2 separate regions of the Homo sapiens genome follow, and region 2 is linked to region 1. The links come from fine-mapping of genetic effects on gene expression. Tissue or cell type: whole blood. Region 1 holds a variant in brackets; the other region holds the start of a gene. Each region is shown on its reference strand, or each on the opposite one.

Region 1 (12,126 bases):
TGGTTACATTCTGAATTTTTAAATGCCTTGTTGAAAGAAAGTTTTTTGAGGAAGGAGGTTAATGAGCATGGAGGTGATGGGGGGTCAGTGTTAACAGCCAGGACCACCGCCCACCCCGGCTGCTGCTGTTCTGCCACCCTGTCTCCACCAGCTCCCTAAGCACTCAGTGTTTTCACAATGGCAGGAGCAACAGGCGGTGGGGGTGGTTTGGTGCAGGGACAACTGTCCTCTTACGGGATCATTTGTTAACTAGGTATTTGCGAGGTCAAACTTGCTTTTATTTTAGGAGGCACACAAGAGTTTTATAAATTGGAAATCCCAGCTGCCTAGGGCTGAGTCAGGGAGGTACTTCCTGGAAAAACCGAAAATGATTCGTTCTTTTGTCTAAAACAATCAGGTCGGGCACGGTGGCTCACAGCTGTAATCCCAGCACTTTGGGAGGCTGAGGCAGGTGGATCACCTGAGCTCAGGAGTTCAAGACCAGCCTGACCAACATGGTGAAACCCCATCTCTACTAAAAATATAAAAATTAGCCAGGCGTGGTGGCGTGCATCCGTAGTCCCAGCTACTTGGGAGGCTGAGGCAGGAAAATCACTTGAACCTGGGAGGCAGAGGCTGCAGTGAGCCAAGATTGTGCCACTGCACTCCAGCCTGGGCGACAAAGTAAGACTCTGTCTCAATAAATAAATAAATAAATAAATAAAACAATCAACAGGCAACTCTATTCAATAAGTACAGTCATTACAAAAACCATACTCCATATTTTGGATATAAAGGGTGAAATACTTGAGGAATGGTGCGGAAGATACACCTATGCCACAGCAGGAGGCCTGGACAAAAGCACAGGGGACAGCATCAGGTCTGAAATCTCTCTGCTCCTCACATAAGCTATGACAGACCTCCACCTTACTGTCACCAATGGTTCTTTGAAAAGCTGCTTAACATAGTCCATTTATATTCATCACTAAGCCTTTGTAGGCCACACTCCAATGAAGACCCCTAAGGCTACGACATTAGTGATCACAACAGCCTTACCAACCTCCACTAATTCACTCAGCATTCACAAAATCAAGATTACATTGCTGTGTCACACGTGGTGCTCTGCTAGGCACTTTGGGAACTGTTAATATTAACACGTGCTCCCTACATGTAAGGAGTGTATAGACCGTAAGTTTGACAGGCTTTTGCTTTAAAACTGTATTTTGCAGATGTGTCCATTTGGCATACTTTTCTAACAGCCAGAGATGACTGGCTATTACAGTTCCTTACAACCTGAAGATTAAGGGGAAACAAGCGAAAGCCACAGTATGGTTGCTGAGAGGATTAGGTAGATTAATCCGTGGAAAGCACTGAGAACATGCTGTTACAGAGAAGCATTCAGATATTTGCTACTTATGTTTCTATTAAAATAATACAGGCAATTCTTATTTCCCTTTGCTCAGAAGAAAAATATGTAGATGTTTCATGTTTAATTTGGTTAATTGAATACATAGAATTTCTCCATGAAATATGTTCTCGGGTAAAACCTTTGATGATCTTTCATTATATACCACCACCAAAAATTACACTAAAATTGTGAAAGAACCTTGAATGGCCACTCTAAGTGAACTAAATGGAAGGGTATTTGATTGATTTACCCATTAAATTTCATATATATATATATATATTTATTTATTTATTTATTTTTTAAAATTTGAGACAGGGTCTCACTGTGTCACCAAGCTGCAGTACAGTGGCTCAGTCATGGCTCACTGCAGCCTTGACCTCCCCAGGTTTAGGTGATCCTCGTGCCTTAGCCTCCCAGAATAGTTGGGACTACAGGCACGCACCACTAAGCTGGGGTAATTTTTGTACTTTTAGTAGAGATGGGGTTTTACCAGGTTGCTGAGGCGGGTCTTGAACTCCTGGGCTCAAGCAATCCACCCACCTCAGCCTCCCAAAGTGCTGGGATTACAGGCATGAGCCACCATGCCTGGCCCTAAATTTCATATATATTTAAGGACACTTATGAAATTATTTGGGATCATAAAGGAAACGTATTTTTACTAAGGATGCATAATAACAGTTCCTTAATAAACTACCTTGATTACATAAAAGCATGAAAGGGAATAATGATTCACACTGTCAAAATACCCCTAAGTGATGATCCGCCACCCTCCACAATATGTCCAATGACAGAGAACTCTTTAGTTCTGAAGGCAGCTGGTGCCTATTATCTGAATATGCTACTGAAATTCTTTTTTTTTTTTTTTAATTTTTCCTTTTTCATGGTTAGGAAAGAGGGTGGGTGGGGAGGGTCTGCTTCCTGAAATTCCTATCAAATGGCTCTAGTTGCAGCCTTTGGGCCTCACACCCCACTGAGATTCACCCCCACTGTCTTGCTATGTTGTCCTGTTACCACTCCAAGAGGAAAGAGGGAAAAATCCATTTGGACACTGTAATCCCAGCACTTTGAGAGGCTAAGGCAGGCAGATCACCTGAGGTCAGGAGTTCAAGACCAACCTGGTCAAGATGGTGAAACCCCATCTCTACTGAAAATACAAAAACTAGTTGGGCATGGTGGCACACACTTGTAGTCCCAGCTACTCAGGAGGCTGAGGCAGGAGATTCGCTTGAACCTGGGAGGCAGAGGTTGCAGTGAGCTGAGATCGCAGGCCATTGCACTCCAGCCTGGGCGACAGAGCAAGACTCTGTCTGAAAAAAAAAAAAAAAAAAAAAAAATATATATATATATATATATATATGTATGTATATATAATATTAAAATATGTGTGTGTGTGTATATACATATATATGTGTGTGTATATATATATAGAATAAAGATACCTGATAAGGGCACTTCAAGAAAGGAAACAGTTTAAGAATGTCCTTCAGAGGTGTTCGGCTGCCAATCATCTTTCTTCTTATTTCCAAAGTTTGGCTCATTCTCTTGTCAATTTCTCTCCAGTCCTTTTCTGTTTTCACGTATTCTTGCTGGAACCACTTAATATGTTCATCTAGCTCAGAATCAAAACAAACAGCTTCTTCCTGCAAAACATTTTCAACATATCAATGGATTCCATGTTTCTATAAAAACTTGAATTTCAGGCTGTTATTGCACACTCTTAACTCATTCCTAAGGTGAGTATCACCATACCTGGTTACACTTGACATTGAGCATAACTAATAAATGGACAGTCTTTAATGACAATAAATTAGATAGTTAATTACTTATCATGGAATTATAATCTATTCTCTTGAAAGATCTAAAAGAGTTACTTTAATTCCTACGTTATCCTTTTATATAGAGACAGATTATCCAGAAGGTTCCCACTGAATCAAATGTTGCTCATTTCTATGCATTTCAATTTTAGAAGATAAAATGTTAAGAAGATATTTTTAAAAGTATTAAGGTTTTGTTATTACTATTATCTTTTTTCTTTTTAAATGCCTTTTTATAGCTGCAGTACCATGCCATATAATCCAAATTCAAAATAATAACAGTGGTTATTTTCTGATGCTAAATCATTAAACTAATAATTTTATTCACTATACAACTGGGTACGTTGGGCGGAGTGGGGGCAGCTAAGAAACACCTCACTTATTCTTGTTGAAAATCTAAGACAATCAGCTTTGAGGAAATAAGAAAAATATCTTTCTAGAAATATGAGTTAAGAGGACAGTCAGCTGAACTGCATGCAAATCAAAGTTGATCAACTGTCTAGCTGACCAGAATGTGAACAGATGATACCTATAAAAGACGAAAAAGGTGATAAGGAATCTACAATCCTCTTATATCAAGGCTTTTACAAGCACATAGGAAAGCCTCAGTAGATCTACTTTCTGTGAACACAGAATGACTAACAAGACCTAAACCAAGTGAAGGAACGCCTAGAAAAATAAAATTATCAAAATTAAGAAGAAGTTCCTATAATCTTATACAAATTTAGTTGGAAGATAAAAGTCTTTCCACAAAGAAAATACCAAGAAAGACTTGAGGGTTTTACAGACAAAATCTACTTAACTTTTGAAACAGAGTGTTCAAATTTATGCAAAATTTTTCAAGAAAAAGGAAAGGAGGCCAGGCATGGTGGCTCACACCTGTAATCCCAGCACTTTGGAAGGACGAGTCAGGAGGATCACCTAAAGCCAGGAGTTCAAGACCAGCCTAGCCAACATAGCGAAACCCCACCTCTACTAAAAATACAAAAATTAGCCGACACAGTAGCATGCACCTGTAATCCCAGCTACTTGGGAGGCTGAGGCATGAGAATTGCTTGAACCGGGAAGCAGAGCCGAGATCACACCACTGCACTGCAACCTGGGAGACAGAGCAAGACTGTCTCAAAAAAAAAGAAAAGAAAAAAAAGGAATACTCTCTAACCCATCCTTTGAAGCCTCTATGACACTGATCCCCAAACCTGAAAGAACAGTGTAAGAAAGGAAAAGTGCAGTCACTCTCGTTCATGAACAAAGTTGCAGATATTAGAAACAAGGAACAACTAACTTGAATTTATTATACCTCAGAAACTCAAGGGTAGTTTGACATTGGTAAGGGAACTATAGCAAATTAAAAGAAAACATGATTGATTTACCCATTACGTTTCACATACTATCATACTAAAATCTCAGTTTGGGGGCCACTGTTATAGAAAGATTCGGGGCAGAAAAGAGGTAGGTTTTGAGAAACGTGGTGTATGAACAGTATGATTGTTGGGCACAGCAGCTCACACCCAGTAATCCCAATACTTTGGGAGGCTGAGGCTGAGGGTTACTTGAGGCCAGGAGTTTGAGAGAAGCCAGGGCAACATAGCAAGGCTCTATCTCTACAAAAACAATAATAAATGTTGGGAGGCCGAGGCGGGTGGATCACCTTAGGTCAGGAGTTTGAGACCAGCCTGGCTAACATGGTGAAACCCTGTCTCTACTAAAAATACAAAAAAGTAGCCAGGTGTGGTGGCACATTCCTGTAATCCCAGCTACCCGGGGGACTGAGACAGGAGAATCGTTTGAACCTGGGGGACAGAGGTTGTGGTGAGCCAAGATGGTGCCACTGTGCTCCAGCCTAGGCAACAGAGTGAGACTCCGTCTCAAAAAATAAATAAATAAATAAATAAATAAATAAATAAATAAATAAATAATAAAATTACAACAGTTCCATAATTTTACTTGGATTATCTAAACATGTGTAAACGTCATATACTGCATTAATTAACTAATTAAAGATGAAAAAACATGACCATTTCAAATAACGCAGAAAAAGTATCTTATAATATCCCTCTATGATTAAAGAAAAAAACTTTTGTCAAAATAAGAGAAATTTTCAAAACCTATAAAGTTATATACCAAAAACCTAGAGCTAACATATTTTTTTTTTTTGAGACAAGGTCTCACTCTGTCACCCAGGCTGAAGTGCAGTGGCGTGATCACAGCTCAGTGCAGCCTCAAACTTCCAGGCACAAGTGATCAACTGTCCCAACAGATGGGCCTACAGGGCCATGCCACCACATCTGGTTAATTTTTGTATTTTTTGTAGAGACAGGTCTTGCCATGTTGCCCAGGCTGGTCTTGAACCCCTGGGCTTAAGTGATCTG[C/T]TACCTTGGCCTCCCAAATTGTTGGGATTACAGGCATGAGCCACCACGCCTGACAGATATGATTTTTAATGGTGAAATTTTAAAAGAATAATCTTTAAAATCAGAAGCAACACAAAGGTGCTTTATTAAACTCTTACTCAGCCTATACTGAAATTCTAGTCAGAGTAGTAAGACAGGAAAATAAAAGGTATAAAAATTGAAAAGATAGAAACGAAATTGTCAATATTCATAGATGATGTGATTGTTCAAGAGAAAACTTAAAATCATGCATATGTAATTTGTTACAGCTGAGTTTTTCAGAGCAACTGAATACAAGATAAATATTCTAACATACGCTAACATAGAAAATACAATTTTTTACAATTATATTTTGCAAAAAAAAAAAATTAAATTGCAAAAAAAACCTTATAAGATACCTAGGAATAAAACTAACAAAAAATGTGGAAGACTTTTAAGAAAATTATGAAACTATAAAATATTAATGAGACTTAAATAAATGGATAGCCTATTATGTTCACAGCTAGCAAGATTCAATATTGTAAGAAAGTCATCTTTCTCCAAGTAGAGCTGCTGATTCAATATTTCTGTCAAAATCCCAAACCTATCAAAAACCACAATTTTTTTTATCAGAACTTGACTAGCTGATTCTAAAACTCATTTGAAAGATTAAAAACCTCAAGAATGACCAAGGCATTCTTAAAGAATAATAAAGCAGTGATGGGAAAGTATCAAGACATTTTACAGCTATGTAAGTAAGGAAGTTGGTATTGATGCAGGGATAGATGACTTTACTAGCGGAAAACAGCAGAGCTTCTAGACACAGAGCCATGGAAACAACAGAGATGGCATCACGAATCTGAGGAAGAGAATGACTATTTTCTGAAAGGTGCAAGAAAATTTTCTATCCATAAGGAAAAAAAAAATCCCATATGGCTTAAGAAGTTAAATTTTAAGAGCAAAAACTTAAAAAAATTTAAAGAAAATATAGAAATATTTCTTATCACTTCAAGGTAAGAAAGGATTTCCTAAAAGTGTTACCAGTGGAGGGCCTTGACTACAAGTTGTCCAGGTTCTTGGCGTTTTGAACAAAGAATTGGAAGAAATGCACAACAAAGCCATGAAATAAAGAAGCAACAAAAATCAGATTTATTGAAACAAAAGTATACTCCACAGAGTGGGAGCGGGCTCAAGCTGGCTGCTCAAGAGAATTTTCTGGGTTTTAAATAGCCTCTAGTGGTTTCCCACTGGTGACTCGGTTTACACCCTATGTAAATACAGGAGAGGCCCACGACCAGTCTGATTGGTTGTGGAAGGTGACCAATCAGTGGCTGAAGTTACAAAATTACACTCTATGCAAATGTCTGATTGGTTGTGGGAAGGGACCAGAGGCTGAAGTGAAGTAGTGAAGTAACAAAGTTATATCCCAATGCAAATGAAGACTAGGCCTGCTACCAGTCTGACTGGTTGCAAGAGGGGACCAATCAGAGGTTGATATGGTTTGGCTCTGTGTCCCCACCCAAATCTCATCTTGTAGCTCCCATAATTCCCACCTGTTGTGGGAAGGACCAGTTGGGAGATGATTGAATCATGGGGGCAAGTCTTTCTCATGCTGTTCTCATGGTAGTGAATGGGTCTCACAAGATCCAATGGTTTTAAAAACGGGAGTTTCTCTGCACAAGCTCTCTGTTTGCCTGTTGCCATCCACAGAAGATGTGACTTTCTCCTCCTTGCCTTCTGACATAATTGTGAGGCCTCCCCAGTCATGTGTAACTGTAAGTTCAATAAGCCTCTTTATTTTGTAAATTGCCCGGTCTCAGGTATGTCTTTATCAGCAGTGTGAAAACAGACTAATACAGAGGTACTTTCCATTTTTCATCTGCCACACAGAGGCGGGTGGGAGATTGCAAAGGGAGTAGCCTCTGGTCCTTTTGTTACCTGGGCATGAAAAGTTGGGGTTTTCCTTTTGATTCAGTTCGAGGAAGTTGGTGCAAATTGGCCTTAGGCTTCCTGCCTTCAGACCCTATTCTCCTGCCTCAGAAGCACTGATCATAAGACAAATGATTGATAACTCTAACTACATTAAAATTGCAACCTTGTCTTTCCTTGTCAAAAGACACCAGAAAGAAATTTAAAAGGCAAGGCACAAACTGTGAGAAGATATTGGGAACAAATATAATTAGTAAAGGAGTAGAATACAGAATATACAAAGGATTTTTACAAGTAAATTGAAAAAAAGGCAGCCTCATAGAAAAATAAGCAAAAGACATGAACAGACACTTTACAGAGGAGGAAACATGAATATTTCATAAACATATGAAAAGATGATCACCCTCATACATAACTAAAATGGAAGCCAAACACAGTACCATTGTATTCCCAATAGATTGGAAGTGGGGTGGTGGCATTGCATGGGGGTGGGGTGAGTGGAAAAGAAATCAGATGATTAACGAGTGCTGCTCAGGGAGCTTAATCATCCAGGAAAATAATTTGGCACTGTCTTACAGAGTTGAATATCTGCACACCCTGTGAGCCAGTGAGCCAGCAAATCCACTCCTAAGTATAAATCCTTGAAAAAAATCTTCACATATGCTTCAAGACACACATACAAGAATAATCACAGCAGCATAGTTCATAACAGCCAACACTGGAAACAAATCAAATATCCGTTAAGAAGAGAAGAGCCAAATAAACTGGTTGCCTGTCACAATAGATTAAACCAACAGGAAAACGAATAAACTACACTCAACTGAACAACCTGGATGAATTCCAGTGACATTACATTGATTGAAAAAAAGGAACTTATCAAAGCCAACATATAGTTTTCATATCATTTTGTAAACCTTAAAAACAAGCAAAACTAGAATTTGTTTTAGGCTGGGGTAGTGAAGGAAAATTCGTGGAAGATGAGGAACTGATCAGATTTTAAGGGATAATAGAATTTGAAAGAAGAAAGGACAGTTCTGGGTGGAGAGACAGGAAGGGCAGAGCATGTTACGGGAATGTTTAGCAGAGCAAATCTGAAGATTGTGGAAAACCATAGACGGCCAGGGTTTAAAGCTGGGACTTAAAGGCGATGAAATCTTTTAATTGAGGTTGGAAGAATAGCTAGGAAACTTGTGAATGCAGAGATAGAGATTTGATATTTCTTTTAAATTATCTAGATTTAGATATATAGAAAGGGAGAAAATTATAGGAGCAGGAGAACCAGGATAATGGATTGTCAACGAAGCCAAGGAGTTTCAAATGTAAAATGTGGAAGGTGGTGAAAAGAAAAATAAAAATCTTTAAGCTTCAGATATGTCAGATCTTCATTTACTTTCAAGCTTTGTTTGTATATGTTTTAAACTGTTGAACATAAAAATGGACTACAGAGGATTTATTCAAATAAAATATGTGCTTGAAAAAAAAACAAGCAAAACTAAGCAATATATCCCTTAAGAATTCATGCATATGTGACAATGTCATTTATTTTTAAAACAGGTGAATGATAAACATAAAATTCAGAATAGTGATTAGTTCTAGAGGCCTGTGGTGTTGGAAAGGCAGGTGACAGGAGAGGGGAGGAAAACTCAGGCACACACAATGGTGCAGGCAGTGTTCTAGTTCTAAAGTTAAATGCTGAGTTAACAGTGTTTATTTTGTCTCATAAACTACATATATGTTACGTATGTAGTTTTTCTTCTGTATGTCTCAAATGCATAGAATGACAATTTCTTAAGTAAGAAAACATTTTAATTTTTTAAAGTACAGAAAAAATGTTTTAATTATCTAAATGGCTTTCTTTCATCTACTGAAATATAGTAGAAGTTATATAATTGCTGATATTGACATTTAGATATTACTGTATTTATAATGTACTACTTCCTCCAAAACTCTTACCCAATCATGAAAATAAAGTTTCTAGATAACTTCCACCTGATCAGACTGATGGGATTAACACAGTGTTGGTGGGTTGTATTCTAGACTGAAGTGATTTTCCTAATTATTAAAAAGCTACATCAGAATTTAAAATTCTCACCATTTTAATGATTTACATATTGTTAGATTTATATATTGTTAGATATACTGTTAATGATTTATATATTATTAAAGCTGGAAAGAACTTAGAAACCACCTAGTCCATGCCTCACACTTTACTGATGGGCAAATTGAGACCCTCAAAGGGGAAGTGACTTTTCCAAGCACAGAGATGCTCAGGTGTGCAGGTTTCTTTTAGGGTATTTCCTCACTTCTCTAACAGGCTGATTTCTTTAACAGTGCACGTTGAAATGAGGCAACTAGTGAGTAAGAAATGTCTGAATCTTACAGAACAGCAGCTGGAAACAGCTGCTGACTGTTGACTTCAAGATGTCTGTCTCAGCAGACAAAGTTAATGGAGGGCCGTGCTCAAGGAGGAATCAAAGAAAGTAGACATGAAGCACGAAAGAGATCACTTCAGGCCAAGAAATACACTGAAGGGAAGTGTAGGACTCACCTTTGAGATGTGTGACTTTAGAGGAATCAGCGTAAATTAACCAGAACATTAACTTGAGTTAAAGCCAAACAAATTGTATAAAGAGCGTATGCTATGCTTCCTTTACCACACCAGTTTTGGCAACATAGAGTGTGGTCTCTCTACTCCAACACCACAGTAACCTAAGCTCTCACAGAGTTGGTTGTAATAGCAGAGCATAGTTCTAGCCAACTTTTAGTTTAAGCTGACAGCTGGAGCAGAAATAAGGAGGAGAATATTTCTAAGTTTGATTTCAACAGAAGAATGAGTCTGCTTTTGAAGTAGTAAGACGGCATGGTTAAAAATGTAGTTATAGCTTTTTTATCTCCCAGAAATGAATAAAAACTCATCTTGACTTTTATAAAGATAACTTTGTTCTATATTCCACAATCTGAAAAAGTTTACAAAGAGAGTATCTTGTTATGAAAATGGAATAATTCTCTTTAAAAAAATTTTTTTAAGAAAACGGTATCTTGCCATGTTGCCCAAGCTTGTCGTGAACTCCTGGGCTCAAGGCTTTCTCCCATTTCAGCTCCCAAAGTGCTGGGGTTACAGGCATGAGTCACTGCATCTGGTCCCTGAATAATTCTTATAAATACCCTATGAAAAATCTACTTTAAAGGCACTATGTAAATAAAGGTTTCATACCTAAGATTGTGGACTGTAGCTTCTGAACATCACCAGCAAGTAACTGGACATACTCCTGGCTAACTATAGTGTTCTCTGCAAATTGTCATCTCACTTATTCTCTAATTACCCAAGGGGTGTATTTGTCTGAGCTGTCCAGTATGGTAGCCACTAGCCACATGTGGCTTCTGAGCACGTGAAATGTGACTAGCCCAAATTGATATTTCTAATTTTTAACAAATTTAATTGTCATTTTTATTATTTTTTAATAGAAGAGTGGGTTTTGCTATATTGCCCAGCTGGATTCTAACTCCTGGGCTCAAGCAGTCCTCCTGCATTTGCCTCCCAAGTAGCTGGGACTACAGGCATGTGCCACTGAACCTGGCTTTTCTTTTTCCCCCAGAGATAGCCCAAATTGAAATGTAAGTGCAAACACTGTATTTCAACTATTTAGTATGCAAAAAAAAAGAATGTAAAATATCTCATTAAAAATTTTTAAGAATGATTACATGTTGAAATAATATTTTGCATATAGTGAGTTAAATATACTATTAACGTTAATTCCATTTGCCACTTTTTAAAAATTTCTGCTACTAGAAAATTAAAAACTACATATGCAGCACATATTATATTTCTATTGGACAGTGTTGTGTTAGATACTAGGTGTTTCCTCATACCAAATCCCAGTCATCCTCATTTCCAATTCTATTGTCGTCAAGTGTTGACTTGGAAATGATGTACCCCCTATGGAACTTGAACAGTAGCTTAGCTTAGCATTCAGGCATGTGTCTCAGTCAATCAGCAGGCAGAGTTTCACCCATGCAACCTTGCCCCATGTTTCCAAGTGTGCAGCTTACTTGTAAAACTTCGCAGTATTAGTAAATATGCCACCTGCTAATGACAGTAATTGCACTCTATGTAGAATGAAATTAACTGTCAAGATTTGTCTTCAACTTTTGCTGTCTTGTTCAATTTTCTATCATGAGAGAAACATCTGTGGAAAAGGCTATAAAATAATTAGTATTTATGCAATAAATCATTATGTGTCAGGCCTAGTAAAAAACCAACAGTAAGTGTTGTAAGATAAATCCAAAGAAACTTAGTAAATATTCTTAACATTTGACTCACTAGGTAGTTTTTGTGCAACTTTAATTCTATTTTATTTCCAAGCCAAATAAATCTAACACACAAAGCTATTTCATAGCTTTCAAAGCTATAGGGTATATATGTACCCAATAAGTAGGAAAAGAAAATGTTTTAAGAGAGAAATGAATTATAGGTATAGTGTTAATAATTTAACACCTGGTAGTTTATGTGGAAGGCTTTGGAATACAAGAACATCCTAAAAGCATTTATCAAATCCATGCATCAGTATCCTACACATAAAGTAGGTTGAAAAAAAAAAAAAAAGAGGCACAAGTTAACCTCTCTAAA
Region 2 (10,063 bases), not on the chromosome of region 1:
GCCTGGGCGACTCCATATGCAATCAGTAGCGAGCAGCCGGGCCCCACAGACCCTCATGCACTCTCTTACGTGCCATTCTCCCCAGACTTTTTTTGTACTTAATGTATGAAAGATCCAAACTAATATTGCTGTAAAAAGGAGAGACAAATTAATATAGCTTATTCTATAAATATATCTGTATATAAAGGTTTCTGTATATTGTATAGAGCTGTGTATAAACTGGATGTAGAAGCACGCTGGCTGCCTCGAATGTCTTTGCATCAGGTGGGGACTGGGTAGAAATTTGATGTCGAGGTTGCAGCAGAGCAGGGGGTTGGCATGGGGCCGGGGGCCGGGGGGGCCTCTGCCACTGTTCCCTGGATGGAACAGAAAGCCTAAGGGGGAAACAGATTCCTTGGGACCAGAGCCCGTTTCACCCACAAGACGCAGGGTGTGTTTGGGTGGTTCAGGTCCAGCCCTTTGTCTGTATTGGGTTAGAACTTCGTTTCTCAAAGTTCACGGTGCTCATGACTCACTGGGGCGCTTGCTAAATGCAGGTGCGGGTTTAGTGGTCCGGGGTGGGGCCCAGGTATAGATTTCTTACCTGCTCCTGCTCGGCTAGTGCCCTGGCCCGGGGCCACACTTTGAGTTGCAGGGAGGGAGTAGAAGACCCTTGAAGCCCCCTGTGAATGAGGGCAGCCACTTGCGGAGTCCTGCCTGTGTGAGAGATGTACCAGCGGGTGCACGTTCATACTACAGCCTGGAAAGATACAGCTTGCTGGCCTCCCCTTCCTCCCTGAGGGGTCTGAGAGGATTAGCTGCCCAAGACTGCCAAGCTGGCGACTGGGGGACCAGGCTAGTCTGACCATGCCCACCTCCCTCCCCAACAATGCAGACAGCTAGGGCAGGCAGGGGTGGAAGATCCCAGTGGGACAGCACTGAAATGCAGGGGCCACTAGAAGTCTTTGCTGAGGGCTTTCCTGAGAGGGCGCAAAATACCTGGCCAGACCCAGTGCAGCCCAGGAACCCCAGGCCAGCATAGCTTCCGGGCAGTGAGGCCTAGGGAGTGGCTGGAAGGCCCAGGTGGTGGGGCCTGCCCCCTCTACACAGCAGGTGGCGCTGTTCAGCCAGTCAGTCCCGCCTTGGCCGCAGAGTCTGGCCTCGGCACTGACCCAGCCAAGCTGACCGGACCTTTCCCTTCCCCTGACCCTGCCCCCATCTCGGCCCCCAGTGTCCAGTGGCTCTATTTGGTGAGGGGCTGGGGAGAGTGATAGAAGAATGCCCCCAGCCTTAGAGCCTGTCTTCACCCACAGCCACTGAACAGAAGCAGAAACGGGCCAAACAAGGGTGAAGACCTGCCCAAGGTCGCATGGGAGGTGGGGACAGACTGGGGACCAGAATCAGGGCCTCTCAGCCTAGGACTCTGGCCTCCACCACACCTGATGGCTTTCAGAGGTTCTTTGCCCTCAGTGGTCTCAATGGTCTGCAAATTATCCTGTCCAGTGAGCACAGCACAGGCAGAAGAAACTGAAGGCCAGGGAGGCTCTGTGGCTTGCCCGGGGCTGCAGCCAGGGTGTGGCATTGGGGAGGGTCTTGAGAGGGCAGTGCTGGGAAGGGCTAGAGAGGCACTCTGCCTCACGCTCCACTCAATACCTGCAGCAGCCCCCTCCTGTCCCGGTGCCCCTGCAGTCAGGAAGGGGTCTACCCTGCAGGACCCCACACTCAGGTGTGCCCTTGGGCCCTAGTCCGGGGAAGCTGGACCACCAGCCTCACTGGCTTGCTGGATTGACACTCACCCCACTTTGAGCCCTCCTCTTCCTCTGCGAAATGGCCTGATGCCAGTGCTGTGTGGGTCCACAGGAGGCCAGGAGAGTCCCACGGTGGGGAGGACAGGGCTGTACCTTCTCCTGGGCTGGCCTCTACGCCCATTACCCATTAACCCTCAGGTGCCAGCATCCCTCTCCCCAGTGCTGCCTTCGGTCTACCACCTCCTCCTGGCCCTGCTCCCACTCAAGGGACAGTGATGGGTGCTGAGAGCTGATTGGAACTGGAGAGGGCACCATTTACTGATCACTGACCTGGCACTTTACCTCCACTGTAAGGCAGGGATACTGAGTGTGCTTTATAGATGAGGCCTCTGAGGACAGAGGGCAGGCCTTGGGGACTAGGTGGAGCTGGCTACAGGGGACAGCCATGTCTGCTGGGCTAGGGCTGAAATCTCAGCCCCTCACTCACTGTGGCTCGGTAGAGAAGCCAGGGGCACAGATGAGGACTCATCTCCATTGATGGGCCCCCCTAGGTCCTTGTATGCAAGTCCCCTGGGCTACTTTCACCGGCCCAGCCACCTTCCTGCCCCAGCCTCTGCCCCAGCGCTGCTTGGGACCCAACTTCATTATGGAGTTGGCAGATGGCAGCCTCAACTCTTGGCTGAGCCCTTGAGTCTGGGACATTTCAGCCACCTCTTTCCTCCAGTCCAGAGATGAAAATCCCTGGGGACAGTTGCTCCTTTGCTCAGTGACCTAGTGTAACAGGGGAGATGGCAGGGCCTGAGCTCCCTTAGCCAGGTCAGCTGCTACAGGGTTAACAGGAGGCTCCATTCCACCCCTTCCAACTTCAAGGCTACCCTAGAGATTGAATAATCTATACTCTTAATTGATTATAATGCAATGGAGTTGGGGCGTTAGGGACAAAGTACGAGTCTTCCCTTCTACCTCCAGCCCTTGCTGACCAGGACAGGGACAATGTGTAGCTCAACGGATGGTGGTGAGAACTTAGATGATGGTCAGTTATGCAGTATGTGGGATACGGAGGAAAGATCCGTGGGTATGTGGAGGCTTGTAGAGAAGCTGGTTCTGTGGCTGGTCCCAGGCGACTCGTAATGTAAATCCGTTTCTCAGAATCGCGTGGTGTAGGCGGGTGTCTACTTTGTCCGCAGGCAGGCCTGACCCCGGGTGGAGGAGGGGCAGGGTGGAGAATAACAATTGTCTTAAGGGAGTCTGCGGAGGGAGAAAAACCTCTGGGGTGTATCAGCTGGAAAAGAATAGGAGTCTCAGTGTGGCCCCTCTCCCCCCTCTCAGCCCAGCCCCTGCGGGGGCGGTGAGGGAGCTGCGGTCAGCACACACAGCTGGGGCCTCCAGCAAAATCCCATTCTATATATCTAAGAGCAACAGCTCTGAGAGCGGCCCCCAGAGGGACAAAACCTCATTGTGAGGCACCCGCCGGCCTCAGCACCCCCTCCCCCAACCCCAGAACTGTCGTGGCATTGACCCTTTTCGGCGGGCCACCATGGGCCTGCTGACTGGGCCACATCTGGGGCTCAGGCATTGGCTGCCCCTCCCCCACGGCTGGCCACTGAGAACTGACAGGGAGGCTGGGGTGGGAGCGGCTTCCAGGCCTCTCACCCCATCCCCACGGGGTGGCCTGGCTTGTGCCCCACCCTCCCTGGGGATGCTGCAAGGCAGAGGTGAGAGTCCGAAGCTGGCTACGTTGGCATCTTGATCTGCCAGCAGTCCCCCACACCTCTGGCCTCTGTTTAGTGGCTTGTCAAACAGTGGTTGGGTGGGGTAGGTTTTTCCAGCTTTTACGTGCTGCCTTGAAGGGTCCCGAGAGGCTTCAAGTTGAGCCACTCTGAAGCGGGATGATTCTCTAGGTCTGGGATTCCAGAATTATCCGCTCCCAAGGTTTCAGAGGTCCAGGATTCTGTAGATTTTTGTTTGTTTGTTTGTTTGTGTTTGGAGACAGGGTTTTGCTCTGTCGCCCAGGCTGGAGTGCAGTGGTGCAAACATGGCTCACTGCAGCCTCACTGCAGCCTCAACCTCCTGGGCTCAAGCGATTCTCCTTCCTCAGCCTCCCCAGTAGCTGGGATCACAGGCATGTGCCACCGTGCCTAGTTAATTTTTTAATTTTTTGTAGAGACAGGGTCTTGCCATGTTGCCCAGGCTGGTCTCGAACTCCTGGCCTCAAGCAATCCTCCTGCCTCAACCTCCCAAAGTGCTGGGATTACAGGTGTGAGCCACTGGAGCCTGACTGGATTCGGTAGTTTGAAGATGCCACCATACATTCATTCAACACATTTATTGAGCACCTACTGTGTGCCAGGTCATGTTCTTGGTGTTGAAGCTATAGCAGTGACCGATACAGAAAAATATCTTGCCCTCGTAGGGCTTCCATTCTAGAGCAAGAAGGATAATAACAGAAACTAAATAGGAATCTTTTACATGGTGAGCAAGAAAGGCCTAGGTAGGGAGAACTGCTTTAGGTAGGCTGGTTGGGGACATGACATTTGAGCTGAGACCAACTGCTACAAAGAAGTAGCCATGTGGAGACAAGCATTGTAAACAGATGGAATAGCATGTGCCAAGGCCCTGTGGCAGGTGTAGGCCTTGCATGTTTGAGCAATGGCAAGGAGGTCTTGGTGGCTGTTATTCAGTGAGCAATGGAGAGAGGGGAAGAGCTGAGGCCAGTGGTAGAGGCGGGGCCTGAGAAACCAGAGCAAGACATTCAGATATTGTTTTGAGTGCAAAGGGAAACTTAGTTTTGCAAAGGAATGACATGATCGGATGTATGTTTCAGAAAGGGTGATTTGGGAGAACTGAAGGGGATATCAGTGAGACGAGAGGCTGTGCAAGTTGGGCAGGACAGAGATGTGGAGGCAGTCAGTCATAAGGGTGAAGGCAGGGGCACAAGGACAACCGCTTTATCCTGGACTTATATCGAGTTAGAACCTCCAGGTTTCATTATACCAGACAGGGCCACGGCAAAGGAGAGTTCGGATTCCCGGGGCAGCCAGGATTTGGCTCTGAACTTTAATGACCTTGAAACTCTTAGGCAGGGCGGGGAGCGGTGGCTCATGCCTGTAATCCCAGCAGTTTGGGAGGCCAACGTGGGCTGATCACCTAAGGTCAGGAGTTCGAGACCAGCCTGGCCAACATGAGGAAACCCCGTCTCTACTAAAAATACAAGTTAGCCCAGCGTGGTGGCGCCTGTAATCCCAGTTACTGGGGAGGCTGAGGCAGGAGAATCGCTTGAACCGAGGAGGCAGATGTTGCAGTGAGCTGAGATCGCGCCATTGCACTCCAGCCTGGGCGACAGAGCCGAACTCCATCTCAAAAAAAAAAGGAGCTTTTAGACCTGCATTGTCCAATACCACAGCCACACGTAACTGTTTAATTACAATTAAACAAAATGAAAAAATCAGTTCCTCAGTCTCAATAGGCACATTTCCAGTGCTCACTTGTGGCCAGTGACTACCATACTGAACAACACAGGGAACATTTCCATCATCACAGCCACAGGACAGGGCTTCCTGGCAGTCCTTAATGCATTGAGCCTCAGTTTCCCCATCTGTAAAATGCAGGTAACAACAGCATCTCCTTGATAAGGTGCCTGTGAGGAGTACATGAGATAATGCCTGTGTGGCCTGGCACATAACACACGTTCCCTAAATGCAGGTTGTTATTGTTGCTGAGCGGGGTGTGTGGGTGGCTAACGAGAGGGATGGGGGCTGTCTCTGAGGTTTGGATTCGGAATCGTGACATCTTGTCCCGTGCAAGACGAAGGCGAGGACGGCGAGGGCACACCCTTCCAGTCCCGACCCCACAGAGGCCAAGCGGCCCTTCGCCCCCACCCCGACCCGGGAAGGCCCCGCGCCCCTCAAGCCTGGGACGGTCTCGCGTCCCCCGACCCGGGACGGCCCCGCGCCCCGCAAGCCTAGGACTGCCCAGCGCTGAGCGCCGCCTGCAGGAGTCGGGAGCGTGGTGCCCGCGGCCGGGCTGGGCGCGGCGCGGGCCGGCAGGGGGCGCTGGGCGCGGCGGGCGGGGCGCGTGGGGCGGGCAGGGGCCGGGCCAGGGACGCGCGGGGGGCAAGCGCGGCGGCGGACCGGGCGGGACCGTAGCCGGAGCCCAGCCGGGACTGTCGCGCGGGCCGCGCCGGCGATGCCGCGCCCCCGGGCCGGGCTGTAGCGGGGCCGCGGCTGGAGTGTGCGCCGGGCAGGCGGGACATGGAGGTGGTGGACGAGACGGAGGCGCTGCAGCGCTTCTTCGAAGGTGAGAGACCGCGGGCTGGCGGCGGCGACCCTCTGGCGCTGGGAACCCCCGGCTGATCTCCCCGGGAACTGGGGCTCCTCGCTGTGTTTCCGCCTCCTCTGGCTGGGACCCTCCTTCAGGCTGGCACCAGCCCGCCAAGACAGGCTCCCGGGGCTGGGAGTCCCCCAGCGGTTACCACCCACCGCCGCTGAAGTTGGGCTCCCCCTCCCCGCTCCTCAACTCGCAGCTTCCTTGGGACTGTGTCCCCTTCCAGGTCCGGACTCCTTTGAGCCTTCCAGGACCCGGAACTTTCCCTAAATTGTGACACTCTCGCCCCCAGCAAACTTCCCGAGTCTGGGGACCCTCTACTTTGCTTCCCCAGAACCCCAAGCGGGATACAACCCCATTCAAGGCCCAGACCCCCGGTGTGCCTTCTAGGACCTTCCGTACCTCTTGAGGCTGGACCCCAGCCTGCTTCCCAGAATCTGTGACCCCCGCCTAGAGACCAAGACCCCCTGTGTGCCCTTCTGGTTGGCGCCATCCCCCATGACTTCTAGGAGCTGGGACCTCCCCACTGTGCTTCCATGAGGGTAGGACCACTTTCGAGCCTGGATCCCCTTGGAGACTGCCACCTGCTTTCCACAATGCTGCCTAGTGACTGCTCTCCTGTTTGGGGCTGGGACCCCCCTCCCTAGCATGCTCTCCTGGGGCTGGAACCTTCTTGAAGCTGACATCCCTGCCACCGGTCACCTCTGCTCTCTGAGACCCTTCTAGTGCTGTGAACTGCATCCCACCAGCCCTCTGAGGCTCCTCAGCACTATGTCCCCCCAACCCTGGAGCTGTGCCTCTCTGACCTCGCCCCCTCAAAGAGTGACCTCACCCCCACTTGACCGAAAGGAGCCCTCTGGGGTGGAATTGACATACACCCCATAATATCTTCTTCTGCCCCCACCCCTACATTGGTTTTGGAGGTCTGCTCCTCCATCTAACCAACTCCCTGTCTTTTCCTGGACGACCCCTGCCCCTCCTGCAGGGCCACCACTCCTCCTGGTGCTGGGTTCTGGAGGGATGGGACCGCAGTGGGAGGGGGAGGGGAAGTTCTGGCTGACTGCCTCCCAGCCCACTCCGCTTCTCAGAACCTCCCTGGAACATCTAGCCAGACCCTCTGGCCCCCTTTTGTGCCCCTGTCTACCAATGCAGCGAGCCCAGCCCCTGCCCCGAGCTCCCTCTAGTCCCTAAGGCCACATCCTGCTCCTTGGTGCATTGAGAACCTTCCCTTCATGTGTGAACCTATCAGGGCTACAGGGCAGGGAACCAAGGCCCAAGTTTCAAGCCCCAGATTCCTGTGGAGTCCTGTGGAGGAGAGAAGCAGGTCTTCCGGTGCCTCAGTTTCTCTCCCTCTGTGACTTGGGAGGCAGGAACCCTTGTTCACACCTGCTGGCTGAGCAGCCCAGGCAGGGGCACCCCTAAGCCTCAGTCATCCCACTCCAGGATTCTGGACACCCCACAGACCCAGAACCCAAGAGTTCAGGCTTGGACTAGATTGAATGGTTGACTCTGCATCAGGTGGGCCATCTGAGGGTCTTAGGCAGCCCTGCATCTGTCCCGGGGCTCTGGCTCTCCCCAGACACTGTTGATCCATAGGAGCTCTCGAGGGGCCTGACGCGGTTTGAGACCTTCAGGGAAGAGGGGACCAGACATTCGTGCTTGCTTGGGTTACTGTCTGGAGTGCCTTGAGCCTGCTAGGTACCCAGAGGACCCGCAGGCCAGGCTCCCTTGACCTCCACACTGCCTGCCCCAGGACGCTGGGCCCTGACAGAGAGCAGAGGGGTGGGCCTGGCTGGCCTGGACTCCCTGGCTCCCTCCTGACCATGGGTTGGGGGGTGGGGGCTGACGCCACGGCTTAGCCATGCAGCGGCCTGGCGGGGGGAGGCTGCGCTACTCCCTCCAGAGAGATAAGAGGAGACTCAAGAATGTCTGTGGGGAGCAGGGGAGGGGTGTGAGGCTGCCCGTCTAGGAGGGCTGGGCTGGAAACAGCTCCCAGCCCCTGCGATGGGGGAAGGTGTGGGTGGCCCCTGAGGCCTAGGGTCTCCAGGCCACTTGGGAGGGGAAGGCCCATGTGGGGGACCCACTGTAGGTGTGAGAGAAGGCCTGGGAGTGGCAGGGCCTGGTGTGCTTGTGAGTGTGTGAAGTGCGAGGGAGCGGGAAGTTGTGCTTTTGAGCCGTGGCTGCGTCACTCTTGAGTGCTGTCACACTCGGGGCTGGGGCTGGGGACACCTGAGCTCTCATCCTGGTCCCCACTTGGCCTTGGTCATCCCTCTGGACAGTGGGTAGCAGTCCCTGTGCTCTCGGCTCTGGGCTGGGAGACTGGGAAAGGGTTTTACCGAAGGGGCTGCAGCACAGCGCGCCCCCTCACCTGACGTGGTCCCCCTCCCTGGGCACACACCAAGCATAGGTGCTGGGTCCTGCCCTGTGCCGGTGGTGGGCTGGGGGCTAAGGCGCTTTGGACCTCAGGTGGGAGGCCGGGACAGAGCGGCCCCCTCGAGGCTGGTACAGCCGGGCCCCCGTGACCGCCCGGCTAATCCCCTAGAGAGAGGCAAGGCAGCCCAGATCGGCGGGCACAGGGCCTGCAGAGAGGGGACCCACCGGGCAGGATGCACTGGCTTCCAGCAGGTAACCGGGCCATGGTATAAGGGGGCTTTGGACTCCAGAGCCAGGGCAGGCACGGGACAGGGCAGTGTCTGAGAATCCTGCCAGGACCTCAGAGTTCTGGTGCAGGCTGGACCACTGAGAGTGGGGTGACCGTCTGTGCCTGGCAGGGAACCCCCAAAGAGCTCTTGCCCTCTTTAAGTCCTTTTTCCTCACCTGCAAGACAGGAGGGGGTGGCAGAGAAGAACCTCAGCTCTGAAGAAGCTCACTGCCCAGCCCTGGGAAGGAGAGACATGTTAGAGTATGAATGGCCGAGCCTGGAAGGGGTGCCTGCTGGCCCTAGATTCTAGGGGCACATGAGGCTCGAGTGAGCAACCAGTGTCCCCCAGAAAGCAGGTGGGTGTGCAGGGAGCCTTGGAGGATGGAGGGAAGTCGCCTTCCAGCAGGTGCTGGAAAGACCACTTGGAGTTTAGTGGGCCTCTGCCCGGCCTCTGGAGCCCCACCAGGGCTGGAGGAGGGAGGCCTGGGATTTCGCCCCTTCTGAAGCTGATGGGTGGCTGGACTGGTGACTTCCTTCTCTGGCCTCATTCCCCTCCCAGGGTAAGTAAGTGGGTTGGACCAGAGCAGGGGCTTCCAATGTGATTTTTTAACCATCAAACAAACTCATAGTCTCCTGATAGGACAGATACAGTGGATAATGGGGGCTGGGCTCCTCACAGCCCCTGAAGCACCAGGATACTGGTTTGAAAGCCACCCTTCCCGGCTGTGGGATGGGTAAGGGGAGGGGAATGGCGCTGGCTGAGGCTCAGAGAGAAGGGAGTTGGCCAGAGTTAGCCAGAGTGGACACCTAGCCCCCAGCTCCCTACTCTGCCACCAGTACCTTGGGGTTGAGGGGGCTACCTGTCAGGGACCAACATCTCTGCCTCCAGAGGGCAGGAGGAGGTCCCAGGTAGAGACTACCTGATGATTTGGAAGAGAGGACTCCCACCTGGACAGGAATCCGGGGGCTGAGCTGGGCTTCGTGATGGGGGTGGCACTGTGGCCCGTGTCAGCCTGTCTCTGTCTGTCCCTGGTGCACCCAGGGAGTAAGTAGATGGGAGGGGTGGCCAGGCACAGGGTTTCCTGAGCCCAGGCAGGGGAGGAAATGGTAGTAGGGGGTCTGACTCATCCCCATGTCCCCAGCACCCAGTGCAGGGCAGGGGTGGGGGGTGGGCAGGAAGTGCTCTCCGGGTCAATGGTGACAACAATGGGTATGTGAACAGAGGCGGCGGGGGTGGGGGACGCACCCCAGAAAGCACCTCTCTGGAGGGCCTGGGGTCAGTGCAGGGGTGAGAAACAGGCAGTTACCAACCCTTTGGCCTCAGGGACTCTCCTGAGACTGGAAGGCTGGACAGAGTGCTCCTTGGGGTCTT

The links. PIP is the estimated chance that this variant, and not a neighbour inherited with it, causes the effect.
Region 2: it holds the start of MYRF, and the variant in region 1 is the best candidate, but not a certain one, in a credible set for the expression of MYRF in whole blood (TOPMed, PIP 0.52).

Annotation. Positions count from the first base shown.
Region 1 is chr6:130,151,999-130,164,124 of GRCh38, forward strand. SAMD3 (sterile alpha motif domain containing 3) reads right to left here. Exons shown (of 12, transcript NM_001017373.4): 9 at 2,827-3,027. Among named protein-coding and RNA genes, the nearest start is that of SAMD3, 65 kb to the right of the region's middle. RefSeq lists an enhancer at 647-1,267. The variant C/T (reference allele first, on the strand shown) is at 5,574.
Region 2 is chr11:61,746,768-61,756,830 of GRCh38, forward strand. MYRF (myelin regulatory factor) reads left to right here and starts at 5,869. Exons shown (of 27, transcript NM_001127392.3): 1 at 5,869-6,023. The coding sequence starts at 5,978. It overlaps MYRF-AS1 (MYRF antisense RNA 1), which reads right to left. Exons shown (of 4, transcript NR_026882.1): 3 at 8,868-8,929; 4 at 7,262-7,678. DAGLA (diacylglycerol lipase alpha) reads left to right here. Exons shown (of 20, transcript NM_006133.3): 20 at 1-234. RefSeq lists enhancers at 398-1,259, 2,120-2,981, 9,285-10,063, 9,348-9,993, 9,994-10,063 and silencers at 5,659-5,798, 5,919-6,018.